4 linked regions of the Homo sapiens genome follow. The protein of the gene in region 2 interacts with the protein of the main gene of each other region in a biochemical or structural test. Each region holds a gene or a part of one and is shown on either strand. Other genes may lie near its edges. The genes, in order: RUFY1, RAB14, RBSN and RAB11FIP5.

The links.
Region 1: the proteins of RAB14 (region 2) and RUFY1 form a complex in vitro, tested with the Homo sapiens proteins (2 studies listed by BioGRID).
Region 3: the proteins of RAB14 (region 2) and RBSN form a complex in vitro, tested with the Homo sapiens proteins (one study listed by BioGRID).
Region 4: the proteins of RAB14 (region 2) and RAB11FIP5 interact in far-western blotting, tested with the Homo sapiens proteins (one study listed by BioGRID).

What each region holds. Positions count from the first base shown.
Region 1 is NC_000005.10:179,595,548-179,602,572, reverse strand, and holds part of RUFY1 (RUN and FYVE domain-containing protein 1), read right to left. Parts: intron 6,670-7,025; exon of another isoform or gene 6,012-6,669; coding exon 5,892-6,011; intron 5,752-5,891; exon of another isoform or gene 5,612-5,751; intron 4,321-5,611; exon of another isoform or gene 4,218-4,320; intron 3,882-4,217; coding exon 3,752-3,881; intron 3,306-3,751; exon of another isoform or gene 3,184-3,305; intron 3,089-3,183; exon of another isoform or gene 2,938-3,088; intron 2,501-2,937; exon of another isoform or gene 2,475-2,500; intron 682-2,474; coding exon 587-681; intron 510-586; exon of another isoform or gene 307-509; intron 197-306; exon of another isoform or gene 1-196. UniProt on the Homo sapiens protein: Activating adapter involved in cargo sorting from early/recycling endosomes. Regulates retrieval of proteins from endosomes to the trans-Golgi network through interaction with the dynein-dynactin complex.
Region 2 is NC_000009.12:121,184,856-121,191,880, forward strand, and holds part of RAB14 (ras-related protein Rab-14), read right to left. Parts: intron 5,877-7,025; coding exon 5,699-5,876; intron 2,165-5,698; coding exon 2,098-2,164; intron 1-2,097.
Region 3 is NC_000003.12:15,082,131-15,089,155, forward strand, and holds part of RBSN (rabenosyn-5), read right to left. Parts: intron 3,832-7,025; coding exon 3,731-3,831; intron 2,916-3,730; coding exon 2,870-2,915; intron 2,767-2,869; coding exon 2,605-2,766; intron 479-2,604; coding exon 237-478; intron 1-236. UniProt on the Homo sapiens protein: Rab4/Rab5 effector protein acting in early endocytic membrane fusion and membrane trafficking of recycling endosomes. Required for endosome fusion either homotypically or with clathrin coated vesicles.
Region 4 is NC_000002.12:73,088,946-73,095,970, forward strand, and holds part of RAB11FIP5 (rab11 family-interacting protein 5), read right to left. Parts: intron 371-7,025; coding exon 1-370. UniProt on the Homo sapiens protein: Rab effector involved in protein trafficking from apical recycling endosomes to the apical plasma membrane. Involved in insulin granule exocytosis. May regulate V-ATPase intracellular transport in response to extracellular acidosis.

The sequences.
Region 1 (7,025 bases), on a different chromosome or scaffold from region 2:
TGTGATCCACCCCAAGGCCCAGGCGTCCACAGCAACCTATCTAGACTGGGACACCAAGGAGGAGAGCTGTCAAGTCAGAGGGGAGCAGAACTACCAGGGTCTGCACCCCATCAGCACCTGCAGCAGAGACAGACAGACTCTGGCGGATGCAGTGGCCAGTTCCCCGAAAGGAAGGGGGCTGTGCTGTGCAAGGCGGGTGAGTGCACCTCTACTGTGCCAGGCTTCCGTTCCCAAACCAGCCCTGCTCCCTCTGGCCTGACTGTAGGCTGACCAAGCGATCCTCTCATTGCCCATCTGTTCCCTCAGGCCCTGGATATGAAGCTAAGGAATAGGAGTGTCCTGGTCACTAGGAATGAACGTGCTTCCTGAATTAACTAAGAGCTCGCTGACACCCCATGTGGGTAGCAGAGATCAGTGCTGGGCCCCTCTGAGGCCGGGCTTCCTGAGAGCTCATCCGTGAACGGCGGACTGAGCTCCTAAATGGCCCACCCTCCGTTCGCCAAAAGGAGGTAGGTTTGGGGCCTGAGGGATGTGGTGGGTAGCCTGGTGTGCCTGCAGTGGCAGACAAGGGGAGTGGGGTTCTTACTGGCTGAGGTGCAGGCCCATTTCCTGGAGGGCTTGTTCCTGCTCCTCGCAGATCTTCTGCAGCTCTGCCTTCTCGTCCTGAAGCTCCCGCAACTCCTAAAATGAACAAACCAACCAGATGCTGGACAGAGGATTACACGGTCCTTTTTTTTTTTTTTTTTTTTTTTTTTGAGACAGGGTCTTGCTCTGTTGCCAGGCTGGAGTGCAGTGGCACGATCTTGGCTCACTGCAACCTCCGCCTCCTGGGTTCAAGCGATTCTCCTGCCTCAGCCTCCCAAGTAGCTGGGACTACAGGTGCCCGCCACCATGCCCTGCTAATTTTTGTATTTTCAGTAGAGACGGGGTTTCACCATGTTGGCCAGGATGGTCTCAAACTCCTGACCTCGTGATCTGCCCGCCTCGGCCTCCCAAAGTGCTGGGATTACAGGCGTGAGCCACTGCACTGGCCTTTAAAAAAAAAAAAAAGATTCAGCAACCAGAGCAACAAGCAGATCAGAATGTTTTTCAAGAGCAAAAGGTGGCCAGGCACAGTGGCTTATGCCTATACTTCCAGCACTTTGGGAGGCCAAGACAGGTGGATCACCTGAGGTCAGGAGTTTGAGGCCAACCCGGCCAACATGGTGCAACCCTGTCTCCACTAAAAATACAGAAATTAGCTGGGTGTGGTGGCAGGCACCTGTAATCCCAGCTACTTGGGAGGCTGAGGCAAGAGAACTGCTTGAACCCGGGAGGCGGAGGTTGCAGTGAGCCGAGATGGTGCTACTGTACTCCAGCCTGGGCGACAGAGCAAGACTCCATCTCAAACAAAACAAAACCAAAAAAAAGAGCAAAATGCAGTCCTGTATTAATGTCATTCAAGATTATTTCTTGCTAGCTTACTCTTGACACTGGGCAGCTAAAAGGCAAGCACTCGACGAGGGCTCTGCAGCTGGGGACAGAGACATGGGACAGGATAGTTACATTCATCAGCCACATTAAAAATAGTTACCCTCAGCTGGGCGCAGTGGCTCACACCTGTAATCCCAGCACTGGGAGGCTGAGGTGGGCGGATCACCTGAGGTCAGGCATTCAAGACCAGCCTGGCCAACATGGCAAAACCCCTCCTTTAGTTAAAAATACAAAAATTAGCAGGGCATGGTGGCACATGCCTGCAATCCCAACTACTCGGGAGGCTGAGGCAGGAGAATCGCTTGAACTGGGGAGGCGGAGGTTGCAGTGAGCCGAGATCACACCACTGCACTCCAGCCTGGGCAACAGAGCAAGACTCCGTCTCAAAAAAAAAAAAAAAAAAAAAAAAAAAAAAGTTACCATCATAGGACAAATGAGGCTTTGCCTATTTGAGCTTCTTTTTAAAAGATAAACATTTTACAAAACAGATTGCTATCTCAAAAAATCTATAGAAGAACTGTACACAAAATCACACGAACCTTGCATCAGCAAAGACTAGTTTGAAAGGTGGTTTCCTGTTCAATTCTGAAAAAGCTGCTTTTTTGGAAAGCACTGGTCAAGGATGATGAAGGGGGTGACCTGGGACCTCATTTCATGGCTAGACCACTTGGAGGCTGGCTAGACCATGTGAGGAGCCCTGCACGGAGGGAGTTCCCCAGGGGGCAACGGCACTGACACCTGGGGCCAGTGCACCTTGAGCCAGTCTGTTAAGGCCAGGATGGAGACCCAGAAAGTAACTGGGGTTTCTGGGACCACTGGGAGCAGCGGTGGAGCTCGGGCCCGAGTGGCGGGGTGGCTCTCTGCACACCCTGTGCCGTAGCTTCTGCTTCCATGCACAGGCTTGCAAAGCACAAAGCTGTGGCTTAACTGGGGTTATTAGACATTGTTTTGTTCCTATTGTTGGGGCGGGCTGTAATTGTGTAATTCGAATCTTTTGACAGAAGCATTCTGAAGCAGAATAAAGGAGGTATGCCCCGTGATGAGGCGGGACTTTCTGAAAGTCCTCTTCTGCCCTCCACTTCCTCCCTTCCACTCTCCAAGCCTGATCTGGCTCTTGAGGAAGCTCTCCCTTCCCCAACAACTCCAGGCACTTTCCAATGGAAATCAAAAGGGCCTTTCCTGACTCGCTCGAATCGTGCAGTGTGTCCATTACCACGTTCAACACAACAAAATCCAGGTCCAGAAGCCACCCTGGCCCTGAAGGCCCCTCCGGGGCAGGTGCCGAGGGGAGGTCTGCTTTGGGCTCAGTTTTCCTGCAGCGCTCGGCAGCGCAGGGGCCTGAGAAGAGGGCACGCCATCCCCACGTGGGAGGAGCCCCCCAGAGCGCCCCAGGCTGCAGTCAGCTCCATCCAGGATCGCAGAGCCTCCTCCCCTCTGGGAAAACAGCCGATGATTTTACATTAGGGCAAATGTTCCACACGGCCTCGGAGTTTCCTGGGAGGTCCAGTTCCACAGCCAGACAGTGAAGGCCTGCTGGACCCCACTTCTCTCGCCCTCTGAAGCCCACAGCATCCAGGCCATGCCTCCAAGTGAGAGGGTCCTCCATGGAACTGAGGTGATGTAGGGGAAGTGGAGGGCTGGGGTCGGTCTGCTTCCCAGGGATGACCCGACCCTGGGCACAGTGGCTGAGGTGAGGCTGGCATGTGGTAGGAGATGTTTACTGGTTCCTCCCAGCTTCCTCTCCTGCGAGCCTACCACCCACTCTCCACACAGGAGCCAATGACCATCCGCAAACAGAACGGATCCTGTCCCTCCACCAGCTGCCCACTCTGGTAAAATAAAACCCACGTTCCTTCCCCTGGCTCCCAGGGCCCATGAAGGGCTTCCTCCTGCCTGCCGCCTGAGGCCGCCTCTTTGCTCCTCACACTGCTGTCTGCTCCTGCAGTCTCCACCCAAGAGGTGCTTTGCAGGGCATAACTCACTGGAGCCTCTGCTCACCGGTCGCTCCCTCCCCAGGCCCCTTGCACACGGGTGAGGACACTGTTCTGCTTTATTCTCTTCATGGCACTTGCCTCTATCTGAGCTGCCAGCAGGCTTAGTGGTTTATGATTTGTCTTTGTCTTATGCTCCTAAAACAGGAGCTCCCTAACAGCCTCCCCACACCCTGGAGCCGCCTGGCCCCCACACAAAGGGTGCGGGGAGAGGAGCCTGCCCGGAGCATGTTAGGGGTTTCTGGAGGCTGCCAGAGGCTCTCCTCTCCCGGGATGGCCCACCTCACCTTTTTCAGTCCTTCCACTTGTTGCAGCTCCATCCTGAGTAGAGAGGAAGTGTCTTTCTCGTGCTGTAATTCGCGCTGAAGAGCCTGTCTTTGCTCTTTTTCTGATTTCAATTCTTTCTCCAGGCTTGAGCTGTTTTCCCAAAATGAACTTGAGTTAGTCTCAGTGGGAGACTTTCACGGAAGATTCACAACCCAATTCACCGCCCAGGAAACAGGGAAGTCTCTGAATTGCCTCTTGAGCATCTAAAGCCTTCGGCAACGCTTCCCTCTCCTCCAGGGTCACCTGCCCTTCCACAAGAAAGAGCAGGAACCAGGGAGAGAAAAGCCTGCAGGCACACACTTGACACTTACGCAGGGGAGAAGGAAGAGAGCTCTAGAACACTTAGACCACATAAGCAGAACCCTCCCGACATGGAGACCTGAGGAAAGGAAGCTCAAAATTCGTTCTTTTCTTTTTTTGAGACAGGGTCTAGCTCTGTCACCCCAGCTGGAGTGCAGTGGCGCAACCTCAGCTCACTGCAGCCTCGACCTCCTGGGCTCAAGTGATCCTCCCGCCACAGCTTCCCAAGGTGCAGAGATTACAGGCATGAGCCACCTCACTGGCCAATTCATTCTGCTTTTTGTTTTTTTTTGAGACGGAGTCTCGCTCTGTCGCCCAGGCTGGAGTGCAGTGGCACAATCTTGGCTCACTGCAACCTCTGCCTCCTGGGTTCAAGCTAGTCTCCTGCCTCAGCCTCCCTAGTAGCTGGGATTACAGGCACACGCCACCACGCCCAGCTAATTTTTTGTATTTTTAGTAGAGATGACGTTTCACCATGTTGGCCAGGCTGGTCTTGAACTCCTGACCTCGTGATCTCCCTGCCTCGGCCTCCCAAAAGTGCTGGGATTATGGGCGTGAGCCACCGCGCCCGGCCTCATTCTGCTTTCTACAACCTACAGCCAGACTGACAATGAAGGATCCTGGAGGGAGAAGGCCAGGAGGGAGCCTCAGCCTGAAGCTGACTCTGCCCTTTACCAGCTGAGTGGCCCTGGGGGCACTGCTGGACCGCCTGGAGTCTGCTCTCTCTTTGTGGGAATAAAGATGTCTCTTCTCTCTTCTCTCAACATCAGGCTTTTAACTTGGCATATATATTATCTCAAAAAATCTATAGGCCAGGCACGGTGGTTCACACTTGTAATCCTAGCATTCTGGGAGGCCGAGACGGGTGGATCACTTGAGGCCAGAAGATTGAGACCAGCCTGGCCAACATGGCAAAACCCTGTCTCTAATAAAAATACAAAAATTAGGCTGGGCGCAGTGGCTCACGCCTGTAATCCCAGCACTTTGGGAGGCCGAGATGGGAGGATCACGAGGTGAGGAGATCGAGACCATCCTGGGTTAACACAGTGAAACCCCGTCTCTACTAAAAATACAAAAAATTAGCCAGGTGTGGTGGCTGATGCCTGTAGTCCCAGCTGCTCGGGAGGCTGAGGCAGGAGAATGGCGTGAACCCGGGAGGCAGAGGTTGCAGTGAGCCGAGATCGCGCCACCGCACTCCAGCCTGGGCAAGAGAGTGAGACTCGGTCTCAAAAAAAAAACAAAACAAAACACAAACACAAAAATTAGCCGGGTGTGTTGATGTACACCTGTAGTCCCAGCTACTCAGGAGGCTGAGGCACAAGAATCGCTTGAGCCCAGGAGGTGGGGGTTGCAGTGAGCTGAGACTGCACCACTGCACTCCAGCCTGGATGACAGAGTGAGACTTAAAAAATAAAAAATCTGTAGATGAACTGTGCACAAAATTATATGAAGCTTGCATCAGCAAAGGCTAGGTGAAAGGTGACTTTCTGTTCAACACTGACAAAGCTGTTTCTTTTTAGAAAGGGTGGTTAAGGGTGATACAGGCTGTGACCTGGTACCATGGTTTGAGAGTGGCCAGATCTTCTGGAGGCGAGCTGGACCACGTGAGGAGCCCTGTGGGGAGGGAGCTCCCTAGGGATAACATACGAACCCTGCAGGGGTGAGTGGTGAAGCAGGATACCACCTGCCCCCCCGCCCCCCCTCCTCCCGTTCGTGCTGAAGCAGGATACCACCTGTCCCCAGTTCTTCCCAGTCCCTCCTGAGCCACACCCCAGCCCAGGCTCCCTGCAGGGCCCCTACCATTGCTCGTGCAGCTGGGAGAGCTGCAGCTGCAGGGCGCCGATCCTCCCGCCCAGCTCCTGCTGCAGCTTGTGGCTCCGCTCCTCAGCCCCCTGCCTCGCCCGCTCCGAGTGCTGCAACCTGGATGCGACACCAGCAAGAGTGCAAATGAAGCAAATCTTTGTAAGGAAAGGATGACTTTTGCTGGCTGAAATTCATTTTTAAAATTACCATACAGTAAAATTAACTCTTGTGAGTTTTAACACGTGGAGATTCAGCTCCACCACAATCAGAATACAGGACGGTCCCACCACTCCCAAAACTCCCCACCTCAGCCCCTGGCAACCACTCATCTGTCCTGCAACAATATGGCTTTGGCTTTTTGAGAATGTAATCTCAATGTAATTATACATTATATAACCTTGAGACTGACTTTTTCTCAGAATAATGTCTTGGAGATCAATCCAAGTTTCCATGTGTATCAATGGTTCATGCCTTTTGTTTCCTCTCTGAACGTCCTGAAAGGGCAGTGGTTCATTCCTTTCTACGGCTGAGTCATACTTCACCGCACAGACGTACCACTTTGTTTATCCATCACCCAATGCAGAACATTGGGATTGCTTCTAGCTTTTGGCAGTTATGAACGGAGCTGCTATAAACATATGTACTAGTTTTGGTGTAGACATAAGTTTCATTTCTATTTGGATCATATGGTAAGAGGACGTTTAGCTTCTTGAGAAACTGTTTTCCTGAGTGGTTGCACCATTTTGCATTCCTACCAATAAAGTATGAGAGATCCATTAGCTCCGTGTCCTCATCAGCACTTGGTATTGTCATTAAAGAAACGGTAGCTGGCCAGGTGTGGTGGCTCATGCCTATAATCCCAGCACTTTGGGAGGCCTAGGTGGGCAGATCACCTGAGGTCGGGAGTTCGAGACCAGCCTGATCAATATGGAGAAACCCCATCTCTACAAAAATACAAAATTAGCCGGGCATGGTGGCAGGCACCTGTAATCCCAGCTACTTGGGAGGCTGAGGCAGGAGAATTGCTTGAACCTGGGAGGTAGAGATTGCGGTGAGCTGAGATCGCACCATTGCACTCTAGCCTGGGCAATGAGAGCGAAACTCTGGCTCAAAAAAAAAAAAAAACAAGAA
Region 2 (7,025 bases):
AAAGCCACAATGACTAGCATAGGGCCATTACAAGATAGGTACTCAAAACAAGAAATACTGCCCTGCTCCTGATTCCCTATGAATCTCCAAATAAGGCTTCTTATCTCCCTGAAAGGGAAGACATAAAGTGGCATGCTAATTACAGAGATACAAAACATGCCCACAACAAAATGGTAGAGAACACAACTTCTACACAGAAATCAAGGGCAATTCTATAGAAAATGGAGCACTTAAGAAAAACTCAAGAAATTTTTTTTCTCCTGATCTGGTTCTATTTCAAAGCACATAAATGAGGCAGGAAGGACACAGGGCGGTAAGGTTAATTTTATTATACTCCTCCACGGGCCCTCTACAATGAGTTTTGTTTTTAATATTTTACTTGAAATAGCTATAGAGTCACAGAGACTTACAAAAAATAACAGTGAGGTCCTGTGTACCCTTCACCAAACTTCCCTAATGGTAGGATGTTATGTAACTATAATACACTCTCAAAACCAGGAAACTGACATTGGTACAATCTGCAGCCCTTATTCAGATTTCAGTTTTTACACATTCTCAGGCACATGTGCGTTCGTGCATGGGTGGTTCTATGTAATTTTATCTCAGGTGCAGATCTCCATCATCACTATCAGGATACAGAACTGTTCTATCACTACAAAGAAACTGCTTCTGTGCTGCCCTCTATGTCATCACACCACTACCACCCTCCACCCCCTTTGCTAATCCCTGGCAATCACTAATCTACTCCCCATCTCTACAATTTTGTCATTTTGAGAATGTTTTCTAAATGAAATCATACAGTATGTAAACTTTTGAGATTGGCTTTTTTACTGGGTATGATGCCCTTGAGAACCAGCTCAACTGCTGCATATATAAAGAATTCATTCCTACGTACGGCTTAGTAGTACTCCACTATAGAGATGTTCCGAACTGTTTAACCATTCACCTGTCAATGGCCAGGTTGGGAAACACCTAGGTTTCCAGTTCTGGGCTACTGGAAATAAAGCTGCTATGAACACCCATCTATAGGTGTGTATGTAAACCTTGGGTTTAATGCGATAATGGAAATGAAAGTTTCAGGCACAGTCCCTAGCATGATAGGCAAACAATGTTAACTGACTCTCAATATGATTAAACCACCATTTCCTGATAAAAGCTCATCTTACCACTGATAACACAGTTCTTGAAGGAGGCCTCTACCAAATGTTGGGGGTATAAAGCCAAGTGAGACACAAGCCTTGTTCCTGAGAAACTCAAGTCACAGCTCAGTGTGTCTTTCCTCACATTGTTCCTGGCATACCCTCAACAATATCTACTGAAACTTCACTCACCCCTCAAGGACCAGCTCAAACACCACTCCTCTGTAAAGCTGCTTTCTCTCCAGACGGCACTGATCATCCTAGGCTCTCCAGCACTGTGCCAGTCCCTCTATTTCTAATTCGTGCTTCAATCTACTTTGCAGCACAGTTATCTGCATATCTGCTGGTTCTCTCCCTGCTAGACTATAAGCTCTTTGGGACCAAGGATCCATGTTTATCTTTGTATACTGCAGAGTCTAGCATGGTGGCTAGCCTTTAAAATCTCAATAAATATCATCTCAGTCTGGTTAAGAAGCTAATGTTTTAACACATATAGAATCCTTTTTATTTTTGACTGAAATTTTTATCCTTAATTCTCCTCCTGTAGTTGAAATTTTTATTGAGGTAACGCAGATTCACATGCAGTTGTAAAAAACAGTACAGAAAGATCTCTTCTACGTTTTGCCCAGTATCCTCCAATGCTAAAGTTTTATGAAATTAATGCAGATCCCTTTTAAAATCATAATTTCAGATTTCATAGTCTTCACATGAGATCACCACTACATTCATAATAGTAATGACAAACATGAACAAAAAACCTAGGTATAATAAAATGCAAAACCTGGTTTAATAAGAACTGAAAAATAACTGTTAGGTTTTCTTCAACTAATTGAAGAATACAATAAAAATTCTCTCATTCTTAGTACCTGAAGACAAAAATCTCACCAGTAAATGGCTTCCCTTTTTGGGTTAGCTTAGTTCTTAAATTTTCTGTGTAATAAGATGCCATTTAACTTACAGTATTTGGATTGGTGAGATTCCTTGCATCTGTCAACCAGCTGCTTAAGTGGTTATATGTACTTCTTCTGCAAAAATAAAAGTTTAAATTTGTGACTGCCATATAATTATAGAAAAAAAACTTAAATATTTAAAATACATATTTAATCAACATATCCTAAAATAATAATTTTGCTTTGACCAGTTACTCAGAACAGTAGTTGTGAAATACAACTGCATACTTTTCAAAAATCTAGCCAAACCTAATATTTTTAAATAAACAACTCAATATCCAACAACTTTGATAATTACAGGTCAGGAGTAAATTGTTTACTCCTAAAAGCATACCGTAAACAGACCAATAAGCAAGCAAGGAACAACACAGTAAATTGATGGAAATGCCAATGTGGAGTCAAAACTCAAATTACTTTGAAATCATACAGACTTTCAATCACAAAGCACAAAGTTGTATCAAAATGCCTAAACATGACACATTTAATGGAAGACACTTTTGCTTGTCTTTAAATTTTAATTTCATTAAAAACCAAGTCACACTATTATAAGCTGGCATACAATTCACCTTTCCTTAATAATTTAAAGAGCAAGCTAACTATAACAGCATAAAATTGACTTTGAAGACATTTGACAAGAATTCAAGTCCCCAGATATCAGTGAAAAAGTTCGTCCTAACTTTGTTCTCTTATCTATCAGGCAGCTAAATTATTCTGGAATTCTAACTGCCCAAGCAAGAGTTTAAAAACTCATAGGCTCATTTGCACTAGCCAAGTAAGCTCTAAGATAAGTAAACAAACCCAAATATTTGTAATATCATACACAGTAGAATCTACCAAAGGGGTCAAAGATAATAAAATTTTTGAGGTTAAAAATGTTTCTGATTTATAGACTCACAGAATGTTAGTCTATCTTACTCGTTTAACATGTGAGGAAACGGAAGCCCATAAAGACTTAACTGGTGTCAAAATCAGGCCTAGAACTCTTTTACAAATACCACATGTCCTTTAAGTGTTTCTAGTTTAGTCCTGTGAATATATTCCATGATCTCTAGCTGCCAGTTCTCATAGAAAATCTGTTATTCAAAGTATATAGTTCTTTCCCAATGAGAACTGAAAAGAACTCCTTAGTCAGACTTTTATTGTGTTACATCATATTATTCATAAATCACCACTTAGATGTCAAAAAAGTCATATATATCAAAATAGCCCCTTTCCCCCCAATGTTTTAGAATTTTCTAAGTAAACAATGATAAAATACAATTTTTAAAAAGCACAAGCCTTATCTGTGTTTGATATTCGTATTATTGGCATATCTTGACTTTATACAACAGGTATGTTTTACTACTTCATGCATAAACCTTAAACAAGTCCGAACATTTCTACTGACTTTGATGAACTTTAAAATTTCAAAGCTGACACAGAGAGTGAAGTACACAGAAAAGCCTAGTACCAAAATCATATAAACCATATTACTTACATGTACTATAACTTCTGCCAATGATTCTGGTAATTGTTATTAATTTAATATTCACTATAATTATAATTTTAAATCTATAAATAAATATTATTCAAATATTAATTGGTGGTACTAGTACTAAAAAAAAAGTGCTAAAATACTAGATATGTCAAAATGTTATGGCAAAACAACTGTCACGACAAGCTACGCTGTCAATTTAGAAAAGCACCCTGTAACAATGAGAGTTAATGACAAAAATAAAAAGGGACTTTTACGTTTGTAAAATGTCAAAGAATAACAGAAAAAAATTGCTGTCATGACTGCAACACCAAAGTCACTATAAAGTATCACTTTAGCGCCTGACTAAAGCCTCGGGTACTCTTTTCCAGTAACAGTTTTTATTACAATATAATGAACATATCATAAAGCTTATTCTTTTAAAGTACGTAATTTAGTTGTTTTAAGGATAGTTACAAACCTGTGCACTGATCACCACTATCTAATTCTAGAACATTTTCATCACCCCAGAGAGAAACTCTGAACTCACTTAGAAGTCACTCACTCCCATCCTCTGGCAATCCACTTTCTTTCTCTATAAATTTACCAGAATATAAATTCTCGATATTTCATAAATGAAATCATACAGTATGTGTCTCTTAGTGTCTGGTTTCTTCCACTTAGCATAATGTTTTCAAGTTTCATCTATGTTGTGGCCTGTATCAGTATTTCCTTCTTCCTTATAGCTGAGTAACATTTCATTGTATGGATATATCACAGTGTTTATCCATTCATCAGTTGATGCATGTTCTGGTTGTTCCCAGCTGAAGTACTTTTTTTGATGACTTGAATAGACACAGATTTTACCAAAAGTATTAACTATGCTTAAAAGATATGCTTAAAAGCAAAAACAATATTCTTAGCACACATCACCATACTTAAATTTTATTGAGTTTTTAATTATGTGAAGTCTTCAGAAATGCATTCCTTATAAAATCAGACAGTTCTGCGTAGGCGGCCAGGTTTATTAACAGTCTTCCCATAATACTCTTGATCATATCACAGATTGCCTGGCTATAATGAAGGGCATTAAGGCTTGTTTCCCTTTGAGGCCACCCAATTCTAGAATTTACTGAAAACTTTAGGCACTATAATTATAATTAGTCAATATCTTTATTCTAAGGCAGCATTTCCCAAAGTGTGTTCCTCAATAAAATAAGCTTAGGAAACACCAAATTAAATAAAGTCATACAGCAAAGAATTTCTTACTGCAGAACTTCCCAGAGTCTTAATATGCTAACGCACATTATGACACATCAAGAGGAAACCTTTTAAGGCATTTTCCGAAAGGAAATATGCTTTAAACTCTAATTATCACTTGGTCCCACTCGCCCATCTTTACCCCCAAGAAACAGAGTCACATTGCTTTTGACTGGCACTTTACATCAACATGAAAGGTGATCCAGTTCATTTTCTAGCTTACAGTAGACAAACAGTGCAGGGTCTAATCAAGTGGCACAGTTTTCCATGTTCTCCAAAGTCAAACCTTTATGTACAGTAGTTTTATTACTTTACATCAAGTGCTTTGGAATTCCAGAAACAGTCATGTTGAAATAAATTTAAACCTACTGCATGTAGTATTTGAAGTCATTTCTATCCATTTTAAGAGAAAAAAAAATTAGTAAATAAATACTCAAACACCTTCAGATGCAAGCATAAAGTTTTTTATAATCTACCATGCTGGACTAGCAAAACTCTTTGCTTGGCCTTCTTTTGAGAGGTGTAAACTTTAACACTAGAGACTAAATAGAGTAAGTCCCAAGAGTGAGTTGCTTGCTTTCTACTTAAAAGAACATTTTATATAAAATATTATTTCTCCTCAAATCATTCAACTGAAGCTGCTTTTCAGAACTGTATTCTTCTATTAGCTTCACCCAATAACTAACTCCCTAAATTTTTCTTCAGTCATAAAAACTTTTGGAAAATATCAATGTGTTATATCAAGTTTTACATGGCAACTTAAGAAACCATAAAAAACAAGTAAGTTCATTCACAGTCATACAATTACAAACTAAAAAAAATGCCTATCAATTTTTTTTTAAATGCCCAAAGTAGATTTATTTTCCCCATATGAAGGTTGAAAAATTATCTCTTACCTAGTGATATCATAGACCATAAGAGCTCCCGCAGCTCCTCTGTAGTAGCTCCGTGTAACAGCCCTAAATCGCTCCTGTCCTGCCGTATCCCAAATCTGCAGTTTTATTTTTTGGCCACTAACTTCGATTATTCTTGTACCAAATTCAACACCAATTGTGTGAGGACAATCAGCCATAACTGTTAAGGAGGAAAAAAAGTAATAGCCCAATTTTCAGAAAACTTCAAATTAAGCCTAGAGGGGGAAAATCCACTAAATAAGCAAATGGCTTACTAATACTTACAGGCTATAAATAGACTAAAGCTACCGCTAAAAAAAAAATTAACAAACACCCAGAAGTAAGAAGTCAGGGAAATGTGACTGTACTAGAATCGGGGTCAGCAAACTTCTAGAAAGGACCAAGCAGAAAATATTTTAAGTTTTGCAGGTCAAAAGGTCTTTGTCACAAACTACTCAACTCTGCCACTGAGGCATAAAAGCAGCCAGAGACAATATGTAAAACAGGCATGGTTGTATTCCAATAAATTTTATTCACAAAAACAGGCAGTGACTGGATTTGCCCCACTGGCCACCGTTTGCTGACCCCTCGACTAAAATAATCTGCTAAGTAAAAATAAGGATTTTAATTAATTCTTCACAATATCAACATTATACCATTTAGCCTTCTTACAATCATTATCTATAACAGATCAATCAATGGTCTTGGTACCCTAGGAGTTGTTAGTCAAACAGATTCTTATCCCAGAAAATATCAGTGTCTCAAAGAAAATCAGCATGTTTTATATATATATGCATATATTTTAGAGACAGGGTCTTGCTCTGTCACCCATGTTGGAGTGCAGTAGCACAAGCATAGCTCACTGTAACCTCGAACTTCTGGGTTCAAGCAAGCCTCCCACGTAAGTCTCCCAAAGCACTACTGGGATTACAGGCATGAGCCACCACACCTGGCTAACATATACTACTTATTATACAATGACAAGTTATATATGTCTAAGCCAATTAACAAATTTATTAGTCCTTTCCTTATAATGAGGCCACTTAAAACCTAAACCCACCATTCTCCAGTACAAGGACACAGACTTCTGGGCACTTCATAAAATGTTACATCAAACCTCTGTGGTAAGCAGCACAAAAATGTCAAAGAAATAATTTCAACTATACAGAAACACTTTCAACTATATTTAGCATATCAGTTACAACACATTGGTCCCTTCTATCACCCAAGAAAGAGTAGAAAGAATTCCATTTTAAGTATTTCAAATCTGTTATTTAACAAATGATACATGCAGCAAATTTCTCCTAATAAGACAATCAATTCCTGTAAC
Region 3 (7,025 bases), on a different chromosome or scaffold from region 2:
TGCTTTCAAGTGGCCAAGGAAGGCCACTTGAAACGAGTTTGTTGCAACACACCCAGGATGACTCTGACTCACACAGGGCCCTAGCTGGGAAATCATAACATGGGCCTTTAACAGGAACTACAAATAATTCAAACGAACAACTTCCCAAAGCATTCTCCAGAATCTGCAGGAGTGTACATAACAAACAGCCAAATCTGCCTAAGAAATTAGACCCAAGACCAGACAGCGCGAATCACCTCGTAGAGCTTCACGATGTCAGGTGTGTGCTCCTTCTCATCAATCTGCTGCTCTCTCTTGAGCAGCGTGTCCTTGCAGTGTGTACAGCAGCGGATCCGGTCATCGTCCTTCTCATCCAGGACCGAGCTGACACTGCTCATGCTGCTGATGCTGCCTCGGCGGGAGCCATGGACACTGTTGGGTGACTGGCTGGGGCTGGTGTGGGTGCTCAGGGACTCCTTGCTGGCACTGGTGAGCTTGTCTGTAACCACAACACCAACAGGCAGCAATGACCCCCACAGCATCCAATTACCATACCCACGACCTCAAGGTGTCAGTCCACAGGTGTTTGATTTGGAGAGTAATAAGATCAGGCTCCAGCTGTGGGCACGTACTGCCCCTCTGCCTTCCTGGTGTCAGACTCTGGTGAGAAAGGACTCCACTGCTGCCCCTCCAAATCCAAACAGCCTTCCCTTTCCACCTGCCACTCTCCTGCATTTGCCCTGTGCCTCCAACACAACAAACATTCTCCCAGGAGACTTTCCTCCACAGCCTTCTCCCTATTCCCAAACATCTGGCTCCTACCCTCTCTGAATGGCAGGTCCTCCAGGAAAGCCTTTTCCAATTCCCTGAGGCAAAAACTATCCATCCTTCCCATCAGTTCCCACCACATTGCCCATTTTGGAGCACTTTCCACTCTTCTCCCTGTGTACAGTTGCATGTACACCCCAGAGCTGCCCTAGGAACCTATGACTCTTTGTGGGTACGAACTGTGTCTTACTCACACTTGTACACTTAACATATCCAGCAGGGCCACCCCACAGCAGCTGCCCAGTAAATGCTGGCTAAAGAGCTCAAGAGAAGAAGGGTGAATAGTGTCCCAAAAAGGCAGCTTATAAAATCTCATGTGAGACAGGGAGTTGGTCTCAGGGAGAAAGTATCAAGGTACAGTGACCTGGTATATGTGAGAGTTGGAAAGAAGAAGCATCTGTTTTTGTCCCCACATTATCCAGACACCCCATGGCCAACAGTGTGCACAGTCAGCAGAACTCTCTAGTGTTGCAAATTTACCCCAAACTTCCCAGAAGCCAATGAGATCATCTTCAGCAACTTCTACTCAGCTTGGTTGCAAAGTCCTGGAGGATCGGGTTCCACCTAAACTTTGTCCTCCACACACCCCCAACTATTCTATTTGCTCATCTATTAACCTACCCTGGGCTTTCCAGAATTCCATGCCTTTGCTCCTACTCTTCACTCTACCTAAAATGTCCTCTTTCTCCATCTCTTTTGCAATCCTACTCATCTTTTAAGGCTCTTCTTGAACATCACCTCCCAGCCCTAAGCATGCATGCTCTCACTGTCCCTGAGCCCACAGCACTCAGCATCTCTCATATTATGATATTAGTCTTTTCTATATGGCAGTGAGTTGTCTGTGACTTATCCCACAGGAAGGGACTAGCCCACTGCTTATATTCAAGACCCTCTTCTCAAAGTCACACTTGCCACTTCCAAGCAGAGCAGACAAAGAGTTGGTCAGCCTCTCCTGAGTTCCTGACAGTCTCTTTCATTGTACATCTCTCTTTAGAAAGCAATTATTTATTTGTGAGTTTATATCCCCTGATAGATGCTAGACTCCTTGGAAGAATGGACAATGCCTTATAGGCTTATAGGCCAGAAATGGGCAAAAAATGACCTGTGAGCCAAGTCCAGCCTCCAGGCTGTTTCTATATGGCTCTCAAACTAAGTATAATTTTCACATTGCTATTTTATTTTATTTATTTATTTTTTTGAGATGGGAGTCTCGCTCGGTCACCCAGGCTGAAGTGCAGTGGCTCAATCTCAGCTCACTGCAGCCTTCACCTCCCAGGTTCAAGCAATTCTCCTGCCTCAGCCTCCTGAGTAGCTAGGACTACAGGCACATGCCACCACGCCAGGCTAATTTTTGTATTTTTATAGAGACAGGGTTTCAACATGTTGGCCACGCTGGTCTCAAACTCCTGACCTCAAGTGATCCGCCTGCCTTGGCCTCTCAAAGTGCTGTGATTACAGGCATGAGCCACTGTGCCCAGTCTAGTGTTCACATTTTTAAAAGGTTGTTTAAAGAAAGAAGAAATGTCACAGCAACCATATGTGGCCCACAAAGCCTAAATGTATTTACTATCTGATCCTTTACAAAGTTTGCCAATCCCTGTTATAGACCACTGTATCCCTGGCCCCTAGCATAGTACCTAGTCTGTAGTGGGTTTCACAGAAACAGCAACTCAATGAATGAAGATTCCCATGAGCCATTAATTTAACAAAAAGGTTCCACGATCCCAGTGGTAATTAGCAAATAAGCTAGGCCCAAAAGAAGATGAGGGTCCAGGGCCCCACCTCCAAGTCACCTACTTGCCAAGGGAAGGCTGATGAGCTCCATACACTTCTTGCACATAATAGACCCGCAGAGGCGGCAGTGGTGGCGGCGGTTCCGGATGCTGAACTTATTCCCACAGTCTGGACAGAAAGGGACATCCTGGTCGTTGACCCAAGGCACCACAGACTTTTCTATTGCTTTGGGAAGAGCAAACCAACAAGAAAGCAGGCCATTTTAAAGAGAGCTTTGGTCAGGGAAAAAAAGATAATAAGATGAATGTGAGCAAAGTTTTAAAGTTACCTCGAATCTTTGCAGACTCAGTATTTGTTCTGTCAAATGCAGTGAGCTGACCGGAAGAAAATAGTGCCAAATGAAATTAACCAGGTGATGTATACATGCTCCACACTTTCCAATACATCAAGTGGGAAATTAGCACATTTGCATTCCTCAAGTCTCATCTGTCATCCCCAACGCCACAAAATCACAAAAACAATTTCACATGGGACAGGGTATTAGTTTTGCATCTAGAACCCACCTCGCTTCCTATAACCCACTTCTAATCTCTTTATTGTCAGTTACCCATTTTAGCAATAACCAGGGGTAGGCAAGGATGGGTAAGGGCAACGACTGAAAGCAACAGAAAACTCTCCATTCTCCACGGTGCTCCTGGACCCTAAAACTGGCCACATATTTCTGCCTTACAAAGTACACATAAAGAACTGTACTTGTGCTTGCTACTATGCCCAGCACACAATCCAGGTTACACACAACAAGCACAACTAGGATGAAAATACACCCGTGAGACCTGGTGACCACTTCTTTGTTTGCCATCACACACTACACCTCACTGGATGATTGTGCCTGGGACACCCAAAAGAAGAATCTGAAGGAAGAAAGGTTTTCCAGCACCTGAGTGGGATTCATAGGTGGGAAAAGGGAAGCTAAGCATGTGGCAAGTTTGTCAACCTGGGCCATTCTCTTAAGGAATGCTGGCCCAGGCTAGAACTGTCCACCATGTCCTTTGCACCTCTCTAGAGAAGGTGTTTCTCTGCCACCATCAGATGTATATGATATATACAACACAGGCTATAGAAATGTGATTATTTTTCCCCAGAAAATGTGTATTTGTAGAAAAAAATGTTTTAAGACAACAAAATTTACCTTCTCTAACCTGATTATTAGTTTATTGACTTCCACAACATAGTGGTCAATTCTAGCAGCTCGGTGTTTTTTGAAGTCGGAAAGATGGCTTCTCACAGCACCTAGAGGGAAGGAAGGTAGGGAGACAAATGACTTATAGTTTCTCTGAGGGAGCCTAGTCTCTACCTTGCCTCTTATCCCAGTGAATTTCAAAAGCAGGTTGGTCAACATAGCGAGACCCCGTCTCTCTCCAAAAAAAAAAAAAAAAAAAAAAATAGTCAGGCATGGGTATGTACGCCTATAATCCCAGCTCCTTGGGAGGCCAAGGCGGGAAGATGGCTTGAGCTCAGGAGCTGGAGGCTTCAGTGAGCTATGATCCCACCACTGTACTCCAGCCTGGGTGACAGAGTGAGACCAACTTCAGAAAGAAAAAAAAATATATTTCAAAAGCAAGTAAAAACTCTAGGATTTTAGAGCCTTACCAAAAATTCAAAAACCAGGAAAGCAAATGGAAGAAAATCTGCTAAATTGTTAACCGCCTTTGGAGGCCACCAAGTACCATATGAGAGACCTGAGAGTAGAGCAGATAAGAGCATGGACTCTGGAGTCAGCCTGTGCTCAAGTTTCAATTCTGCCACACACTGTGTAACCTTGGACACATTACTTAACATCTCTGTAACTCTAAGAGTACTCAACTATCAAATGGAATAATAATGGTATCTACTTCACAGAGTTGTTAACGATGATTAAATAAGTTAAAATTTGTAAAGTCTTAACTGACTCTCATGCCAATGTTAAATAAACAGGGTGGGAACATTATGGGTGATTTAAACATTTTTGAATTATCTTATTGTTTTATACTTTATAAATTTGATACAATATGGTTTTTCCTCAGGATAAGGACAATTCTCAAAATGGCCAAAAAAATGTAAATGCTGGTAGATTCCCTTGTGGGAGATAGTTAAGCTGATACCTTCCTCAGTCCAGCAGCCAAAACCCAGGACAAATGTCTGCAACACAAATAGCTTACTGTCTGAGTAACCTGAAATATCCCCTGCTCAGTCTCACCTGTTCCAGAAACATATTGTCCTCAACCCTCCCGGCACTCAGTGCATGTCCTCTTCCCAATGATCATCTATTCATTTATAGACTATAATGTAACAGAATTTGTCACATGCCATGCTTTTAAAAAATTTTTTAATTGCCAAATAAAAATTGCATATATTCACCGTGTACAACATGATGTTTTGAAATATTTATACACTGGGAAATGGCTAAACAAGCTAATTACCATATGCATTACTTCATATACTTACCACTTTTTGTGGTGACAATACAAAGTCTACTCTCACTGATTTTCAAGAATACGAGATATTTTTATTAACTATAATCAGGCCAGGTGCGGTGGCTCATGCCTGTAATCCCAGCACTTTGGGAGGCTGAGGAGCATGGATCACTTGAGGCCAGGAGTTCAAGACCAGTCTGACCAACATGGTGAAACCCTGTCTCTACTAAAAATACAAAAATTAGCTGGGCATGGTGGTGCACGCCTGTGGTCCCAGCTACTCAGGTGGCTGAGGCACAAGAATTGAACCCAGAGGCAAAGGTTGCAGTGAGCCAAGATCACAGCAGCACACTTGAGCCTGGGTGACAGAGGAAGGCTGTCTCAGAAAAACAAACAAACAAAAAACTATAAATCACCACCTTATACAACAGATCTCTTGACTTATTCCTCCCGGCTGAAATTTTGTATCCTTCGATCAGCATCTCCACATGCTATACTCTTTATTTATTTTTGAGACAGAGTCTCGCTCTGTCGCCCAGACTGGAATGCAGTGGCGAAATCTCCAGGCTCACTGCAATCTCCACCTCCCAGGTTCAAGCAATTCCCATGCCTCAGCCTCCCAAGTAACTTGGATTACACACATGTGCCACCATGCCAGGCTAATTTTTGTATTTTTAGTAGAGACAGGGTCTCACCACATTGGCCAAACTGGTCTCAAATTCCTGGCCTCATGTGATCTACCTGCCTTGGCCTCCCAAAGTGCTGGGTTTACAGGTGAGCCACCGCACCTGGCCACACATGCTATACTCTTAACCATCCACATGTCTTTTCTTCCCTAATCATACTCTAACATCTAATTAAACTTTAATTTAGAATTCTTAGGGGTGACCATAAATATTAACTGCTAAAATTTGCCATTCATTTGACCTACAATTTGTGATTTCAGTTACTGCAACTGGCAACTTAATCAGAAAATCACCCTAGTAATCTCACATTGGCAATCATGAAACAAGGTATCACAAACAAGCTATCATAAATAAATATTAACTTCTAAAATTTGCCATTCACTTGACCTTCTACAATTTGTGACTGTCTTCAGTTGCTGCAACTGGCAACTTAATCAGAAAATCACCCCAGTAATCTCACATGGGCAATCATGAAACAAAGCTAATAAGAATTCATGTGTCCAAAATTTCTCCTTCATGTTTTGGATTGGCTTTCATATGTATCTCATAATTACATATGTATAGTATTATTATTATTTTTTTTTTTTGAGACAGAGTCTCGCTCTGTCACCCAGGCTGGAGTGCAGTGGTGCAATCTCGGCTCACTGTAACCTCTGCCTCCTGGATTCAAGCAATTCTCCTGCCTCAGCCTCCCGAGTAGCTGGAATTACAGGCATGTGCCACCACACCTGGCTAATTTTTTTGTATTTTTAGTAGAGACGGGGTTTCACCATATTGGCCAGGGTGGTCTCAAACTCCTGACCTTGTGATTCAGCTGCCTCGACCTCCCAAAGTGCTGGGATTACAGGCGTGAGCCACTGCGCCCGGCTGTATAGTATTATTTTTAAAGCAATTTTCTCCTGCAATAACAAAAATGTTTCCATTCTCCAATACAGTAGCAAATAGCCACAAGTGGACACAGAACACTTAAAATGTGGTTAGTGTGTGCTACAGGAAGTGACTTTTAATTTTATTTCATTTAAATTTATTTAAACTTAAATAGCCCATGACTGGTGGCTACTGAATGGACAGCACAGTTGTAGGACTTTCCTTATTCAAAGAGACACCTTCTATAACAGCACTAAAAAGATACAGTAGATGAGCCTGGGTAAATTTCGCTTTCCTTCTTGGAGCTCCAGTTTCCTCATCCATAAATGGGAAAAAGGACCACTACTCCACAAGGCTTTTGTGAAAGGTGAACAAGATCATAAACATGAAAATTGAATAAATCACAAGGGAATGATAAATAAATAAAGGAATAATTACCCATTTCATGGACAGAAAATATTTTATTATATTAATGACT
Region 4 (7,025 bases), on a different chromosome or scaffold from region 2:
GTAGGCCAAGCTCCCGCTGGCTGAGGACAGGGTGCTGTCCGAGCCCAGCGAGGTGTTGGACTGGGTCAGGGACGACTTGCGCAGCTTGTTGCGGAGGAAGAAGCCTTTGGCTTTGCCCATCTTGCCCAGGCTGCCCAGGTCAGGATCCTCTATGGCGCTGCTTGGGAGGATGGCAGAGGCAGATTCCAGATCATACTTCTTCTTGCCCTTCATCTTGTCCCTGATCTTGCTGAAGGGAGACCTTGGCTTGTCCTTCATGGACAGGTCAAACATACTGGCGCTCAGGTTGTTGCGCGTGAACTGGATGGTGACTTCAATCTCGCCGCGTTCCTTCTCCTTCTTGCCTGGCTTGGAGTGCAGCTTGTACCACCTGTGAGAAGAGGGGAGCAGGCAGAACTCAGTCACGGGCCCAGGGAGCCTGGCTCCCGCCCGGTACCAGGCACTGCCCAGACCCCTCCTTGCTCTGAGAGCCACTGATAGCCTCTCCCCAAAGGCTCCTGCTCTGACCCATCGGCCTGGGCTTCCAGGCTTCAGATGCAGCTGAGAAACTATCCAAAACATTTCCATGATGGAGAAAACCACATCCTGAGTGGGGAAGCTCCTCGGGTGCCACCAGGTAGGGCGGCGGTTACCACACCATGCCTCCTCCCACCCCAGGACCTTCTCCTGGTGCTCAGAGACCTCTCCTCTGCCCCATCTCCCCTACATCTGAAACTCTGAGGCCCAGAGGGGTGAGGCTGGGCCTGGGAGAGCCCTCCCATCTCCAGGCCCCAGCACAGACAGACCTACCCACATTTCTCCCTGTTGACATCATCTCCTCTGGCCAGTCCCAGCCAAAGCTCTGCTCCCAGCCACCGTGAGCCCAGGAAAGAACAGCTCACCCAGAGGCCCAGGGCCAGGAACACAGGAATGCTAGTGCATACACTCATGTATGTATACACACACACACACACACACACACACACACACACCTCACTCACACACTGACTCACCCCAAGCCCTGTCAGGAATACCTCTACAAGATGCAGGAACAGACAAGAATGGCAGAAAGAGACCCAGGAAAGACGAAGAGCGCTCATATCTGTTGAGCATCTATGGTGCATTACGACCAGCATGAGGGTTCTTACCTCACTCCCGCACATACCTCCCAAAAAGCATATGAGGTAAGAGGTACTACCCCATTGTACAGATCAGGAGGGTGAGGCTCAGTGGTAAAGGAACCCATCCGTGGAGACTCAGAGCCAGGTGTCCAGCCCTCCAAAGCTTAAGTTCTTCCCGGTGCACACCCACTGTGCCCAGAGAGACACAGAGACAGCCCCCAACACACATGGCCACCACACAGGGTGGCTGGGGCCCGCCCTACTGGGGAGAGATGTTCTTATGCAGGGGTTGGCAGTTTCTTAGAGAACTAAGCAAACTCCGATCACACAAGGAGCAATCACACTTCTTGGTACTTTGCCTACTGAGGTAAAGACTTATGTCCAAAGAAACACCCTGCACACAAATGTTTATAGCAGCTCTGTTCATGATTGCCAAAACTTGGAAGCTGCCAAGGTGTCCTCCAGTAGGTGAAAAGATAAGCAAACTGTGGTACATCCAGACAATGGAATACTACTTAATGATAAAAATAAATAGGCTATCAAGCCATGAACAGACACGGATGGATCTTACATACATAAGTGAAAGAAGACAATCTGAAAAGGCTTCATGCTTGCACGACAAAACTATTTGACATTCTGCAAAAGGCAAAACTATGGAGACAGTGAAAAGATCAGTGGTTGCTGGGGGATTGAAGAGAGGACAGAGCGATGAATAGGCAGAGCACAGGGACTTCTCAGGAGAGAAAAACTATCCTGCATGCTACCGTAATGGTGGACATGCATTGTTATACACCCACAGAATGCACAAAACAGCAAGTGAACCCTAACATAATGTATAGACTCTAGTTAACAATGACGTGTTGATATTGGCTCTCAAATACAACAAACATGCCACACTAATGCAAGATGTTAACAGAAGAAATGGCGGTGGGGGCGTGGGTGGAGTAGATGGGAACTCTCTATACTTTTCACTCGTTTTTCTGTAAACTTAAAACTGCTCTGAAAAATAGACTTTATTAACTAAAAAAAAGAGAGCAGGGAACACAAAAAGGAAGAAACTATGAAGGAAATCATACAAGAATGTTTTTCTGAACTGAAGAACATGAATGCTAGAACAGTCCTACAAGTATGCAGCGCAATGAACTAAGACAGACACATGCCAACAGATATGACTATGAGGCTTAGAACACCAGGCATGAAAGGATTCGAACAGCACTGGAGTCTTCCTTAGCAACACTGGGCACCACATGAAGGAATGTCTTCACATTTCTGAGGGAAAAGCCTTCCACTAGCCTGGAATTCCAGACCCAGCCAATCGAGCATGAAGGTGGAATAAAGCCCGGTGGTAGTGGTCAGGCTGGTCACTAAAGGGCTCAAAGTCCCTTGGTGACTGCACAGCACACACACACATACACACACACACACACGCACACAGAGCTACCCAAGCCGCAGTCAGTGATGCAGGATCCACCTCCCGCCTGAGCTCTGCCCCCAACAATGCCAGCTCCCTGAGCTTCTGGTGGACACAGAGTGGGGTGTGGGGAGCCTTTGTATGAAAAGTCCCTATACATCCAAAGATCCAGAATTAAGTCACAGCAAAAGCTTGGTGGTAGTGGTGGTAGTATTTTGATTATTTTTTAATGTTGAAGTTTTTTTAAAAAGGCTTCCTGGGGCACCTCTGACTCTTCTACATCCCTATAGAAGAGCCCATCATGACGAAATCCTGGTGGGCTATGGCCCGTCCCCTCCGTGGAGACCTACTCCGCAGCCTGAGCGGCCTGAGCCTAGACTTTGGTTTTCCCTCCCAAACCTGAGAGACAATCCCCTGAGAAGGCCGGGTAGGAACAGATGGTGCCACAGGCAGGGCGGACAGAGAAAATGCCCGAGCGGGTGCCTCTCTCATAAGGCACGGGCAGAAGTGAGGGGAGGAGAGGCTAATTGAGACAGACAGACTGGAGGATGTATGTGAGGGTGTCTGTGGGGCAGGAGAGGAAGTTTGACAGAAAGACCAGCCAGCAGCATCAACAGCCTCACACCTCTACGTTCTCAGCCCAGTGACCACCGTGGGCCTGACCCTTTACCTATTTAGAGGCCAAGCCCTAGTCACTTTCCCTAAATCTGGGCTAGGCCCTATCTAGCACAGGAAAGTCCTGGGAGGTAGGGCAAAAGAGAAGGGTATGGACTCCAGCCCCAAACCGCCCAAGCCCTGAGTAACTAGGATCAGCAAGCACAGCCAGCCTTTGCTGGGGCAGACAGGTCAGGGGCCCTCAGCCCCAGCTACTCACACTGCACACACCACAGCGGTAATGCAATTACCTGAGGGGACCGGGGCCCTGTGGTGAGATTGCAGGGAACTAGCACTTCCTACATTGTCTATTTTTGTCCTATTTGAATGTTTTATAAGGAGCATATATTACTGTGGTAATAGGAAAAAGAGACAAGGGAAAGCTCTTGCTCCTATCTCATCTCAGCTTCCTGAGCCACAAAATGGGCCGTGCTCCTCTGCCTCCCAGCCCTCAGAGGAAGGCGGGAGGCCGAGTTTCAGGTCCTTTGCCACAAGGACCTTTTGGGCCTCTCTCCCCTATAAGGTCACTTCCCCTTCTCCTGTTCTGCCCAGCCCTCCCCCACAGGGAATTTGGGTTTCTCCCTGGACTTGTTTTTCAAGGAAGCACGGAAGGAAAAAGAAAAAGCTTCCCTGAATATTTTTTAGGCTCTCCCATCCAGAGCACAGTGAAATGGAGAATGGCCAGGACCTACCTCTGGACCCCAGCTGCCATCACTCGTCCACCTCCCTTCCAGCCCCACCTCCCTCTGCAACCCAGTCAAGGGCAGGACTGAATGGGATACTGCCTGGCACCTTGGCCACCCTGGGCACCCCAGGGACTCAACCAGAGCAGACCTTCTCCCAGAAGTATGGCCTACATGAGCTGAGATGGCCACATCCTCCCCCTCCCTAGAGGTGCTACTTCCCTGTGCCTGGACCAGACAGCCCCACAGACCTGTCGGGCACCATGGAGGTCCACTGGAGAATGGAAAACTATGAACACTGTCGAGGGGGGCTGAGGAATCCGCAATGAAAACAAATGGAGGCTTTCTTTTCACAGAGCCCCACACGCAGCAGAGCAAATGGGCTCTGAGCACCTCATCCCTAGAGACTGAAGCCCCCACGGGGAATATGACAGCAGGGTCCTATGACCTAGTTCAAGTCCCACTCCTCTGGGAAGCTCCCTCAGCTGCCACCATCCTGCTGGCCTGGCCCAGTCCCTCCTCTTTCTGACCAGGCATACACACTCTGAACCAAACTCACTCTACAGCCAGATCTGGCAGCACCGTGCCCCAGGACCCCCTGGTGTTGTCATGTCCTGGGCACCCAAGGTCTCCCTTGCTGGACTGTGTTTCTTGTGGATATTGACTGAGTATCCCCTGGGGCACACAGCTCCAAAGTAAAGAAATCATGCATGCACAGTCTGGAGCTGTTACAACCCTGCAGGGCCCTCTCTCAGCTCTCATCTGGATGCGCCTGACAGCAGGGCATGGTGGTGAGTGCTGGGTCCCCCACTGACCAGGTCACCTCCCTCAGCCTCCGCTTCCTTGGCCCTCAGGTGGGGACAACCATCCTCTTGGCTGTTGGGAGGCTAAGGCACGCCAAGCCTGGTTGGCAAAACCAGCTTATCCTCTCACTCTCTCCCACGACCGTGAGCTCTTAGGACTCCTGCTCTTGAATCCCTGACGCCGATCGCTCTGCCTAGCCTTCAAGGGAACGTGCCAGATCCTTTAATAAATATTCAACCTCGGACGCGCATGGTGGCTCATGCCTGCAATCCCAGCACTTTGGGAGGCCAAGGCGGGCAGATCACTTGAGGCCAGGAGTTTGAGACCTGCCTGGCCAACATGGCGAAACCCCGTGTCTACTAAAAATACAATAATTAGCTGGGTGTGGTGGCACACGTTTGTAATCTGAGCTGCTCGGGAAGCTGAGGCATGAGAATCACTTGAACCTGGGAAGCGGAAGTTGCAGTGAGCCAAGATTATATCACTGCACTCCAGCCTGGGCAACAGAGTGAGACTTTGTCTCAAAAAAAAAAAAAAAAAAAAAAAAATCCAACCTCAACTTCCCAAGTCTGGCTGTGCAAGAGATAGGCCCTGGTCTCCAGTTTTGGAGATTCTGCTACTGTTCCTTCCTCCCTACCTGATCAAGGTTTTTTCTCCCTCTCTGTGCCCTTCACCAGGCCTAGCTGACTGGGGCACTGGGCTTAGGAACTCCAAAGCCCAAGCTGAGGCCTGACCTGTCACTTTCATCCAGGGCAGAGACATGGCCAAAATCAATCAGGGTGTGACCAAGGCCCCAACATTCATCTAGACAATGGCTCACAAGACAGCTCTCATTTTCACAGCTCCACAGCTGTAGCACCCAAACCTGCTATGCATCGGTGCAGGATTTATATACAGATATAAATCCACCCAAGACGCCACCCAGACTTACTGAACTAGAAGGTCCCGGCCTGGTTATCTATATTTCTCAGTGGGTTTGGGGGTGGGGCCCCACAGGTGAGTGAATTCACCCAGACCCCATGTGGGAACCACAAGGATGGTCCCTAACGCTTTACATCACTTTAAGGTCAGCGGCCACCTGGGCTCTCCACCTGGGCTTGTCCTTAAGGACACTCAATCGGTACCCAGGAGAAACCTGTGTCTTTCTCCTGCCCAGTAAGGCTTGCCTTCCCAAGTCCCGAGGACACGCTGCTTCTGAGAGGACTGACCCTAGAAATACTCATCCCTCCCCCAGGAGGGGGTAAGTTACCAAAGGAACACACTGGGGAGGAGCAGGCAGCATTAAGCACTTTCTAGAAATTAAGAGTGTTAAGATGAATTAGGCCTCCTAGATCAGAAACCACTGGAGAAACAACACTCTCACCAAACCAGGAGGAAGGACAGTGATTCTGCCCCCATACAATTCCCCTGACACCCACCTGGTGCTCAGAGTCCGGGCTGCCTGCAGCACATATATCACTAACTGGCACATCCTTCACTGCAGGAACTAAGCTGCTCCACCTGCAAAGCACCCACCTTGACTTCATCTCTCTGTCAGGGGCACCATCTGGGGCACTTGAACTCTCCAAGGCCCAGCCAGCACATGCTCAGGACACAAGGGTTTTGATGAAGATGGTGATTATCTGGGACTTGTCCCAGGTGCCTCTGCAGCCAGGACATGATGGACACAGTAAGAAAAGGCACAGTAAGAGAAAATTCCTTGCACCTGAAGAGGCACACGCAGCTACTGATGCTGCTCTTCAGAAGACACACATCAGTGCTTCTCAAACTGCAAAGTGCAAAAAAAAATCACTGGATCTTGTTAAAATGTGTATTCTGATACCCAAAGTGTAGGTGGACCTGAGAGAGCTCCCAGCTACCCATGCTGCTGCTGGCCCAGAGGCCACACCTGAGCAGAGGGCTGCACATGAGGGGGCTAGAGAATGGCCAGAGCTGACCCTGCTGAGGGCTCACTGTGTGCCTGGCTCTGCAGCTCTTTTATTATCCATGCAACCAGCCCAGGAGATGGGAGGCCCATTTTACAGATGAGGAAACTAAGTTGTGGAGATGGTTTGTAAGTTGCCCAGGGCCACACAGCTAGTAAGTAATGGAGCTGGAACTTGAACATGAAAATGCCAGCCTCCAAGCCCATGTCCTTAACCTTTAAGGTTTAGCAACTTTCAGAAAAGCAGAATGCATATACTCCTGCCCTGAGTACCCTGAGAAGACAGAGGCCAGTAAAGGCCTGGCTACACATCACAGACCCTGAAGACCAGACCCCCTTTCAAAAGGTTGGCACAATCCCAGAGCACAGAGCCCTGAGATGCCACTGAGGGGACCTCAGGGTTTTGTCCTGTCCTTAGCCCCTCAAAACCTTGTCCGAGAGCAGCCCAG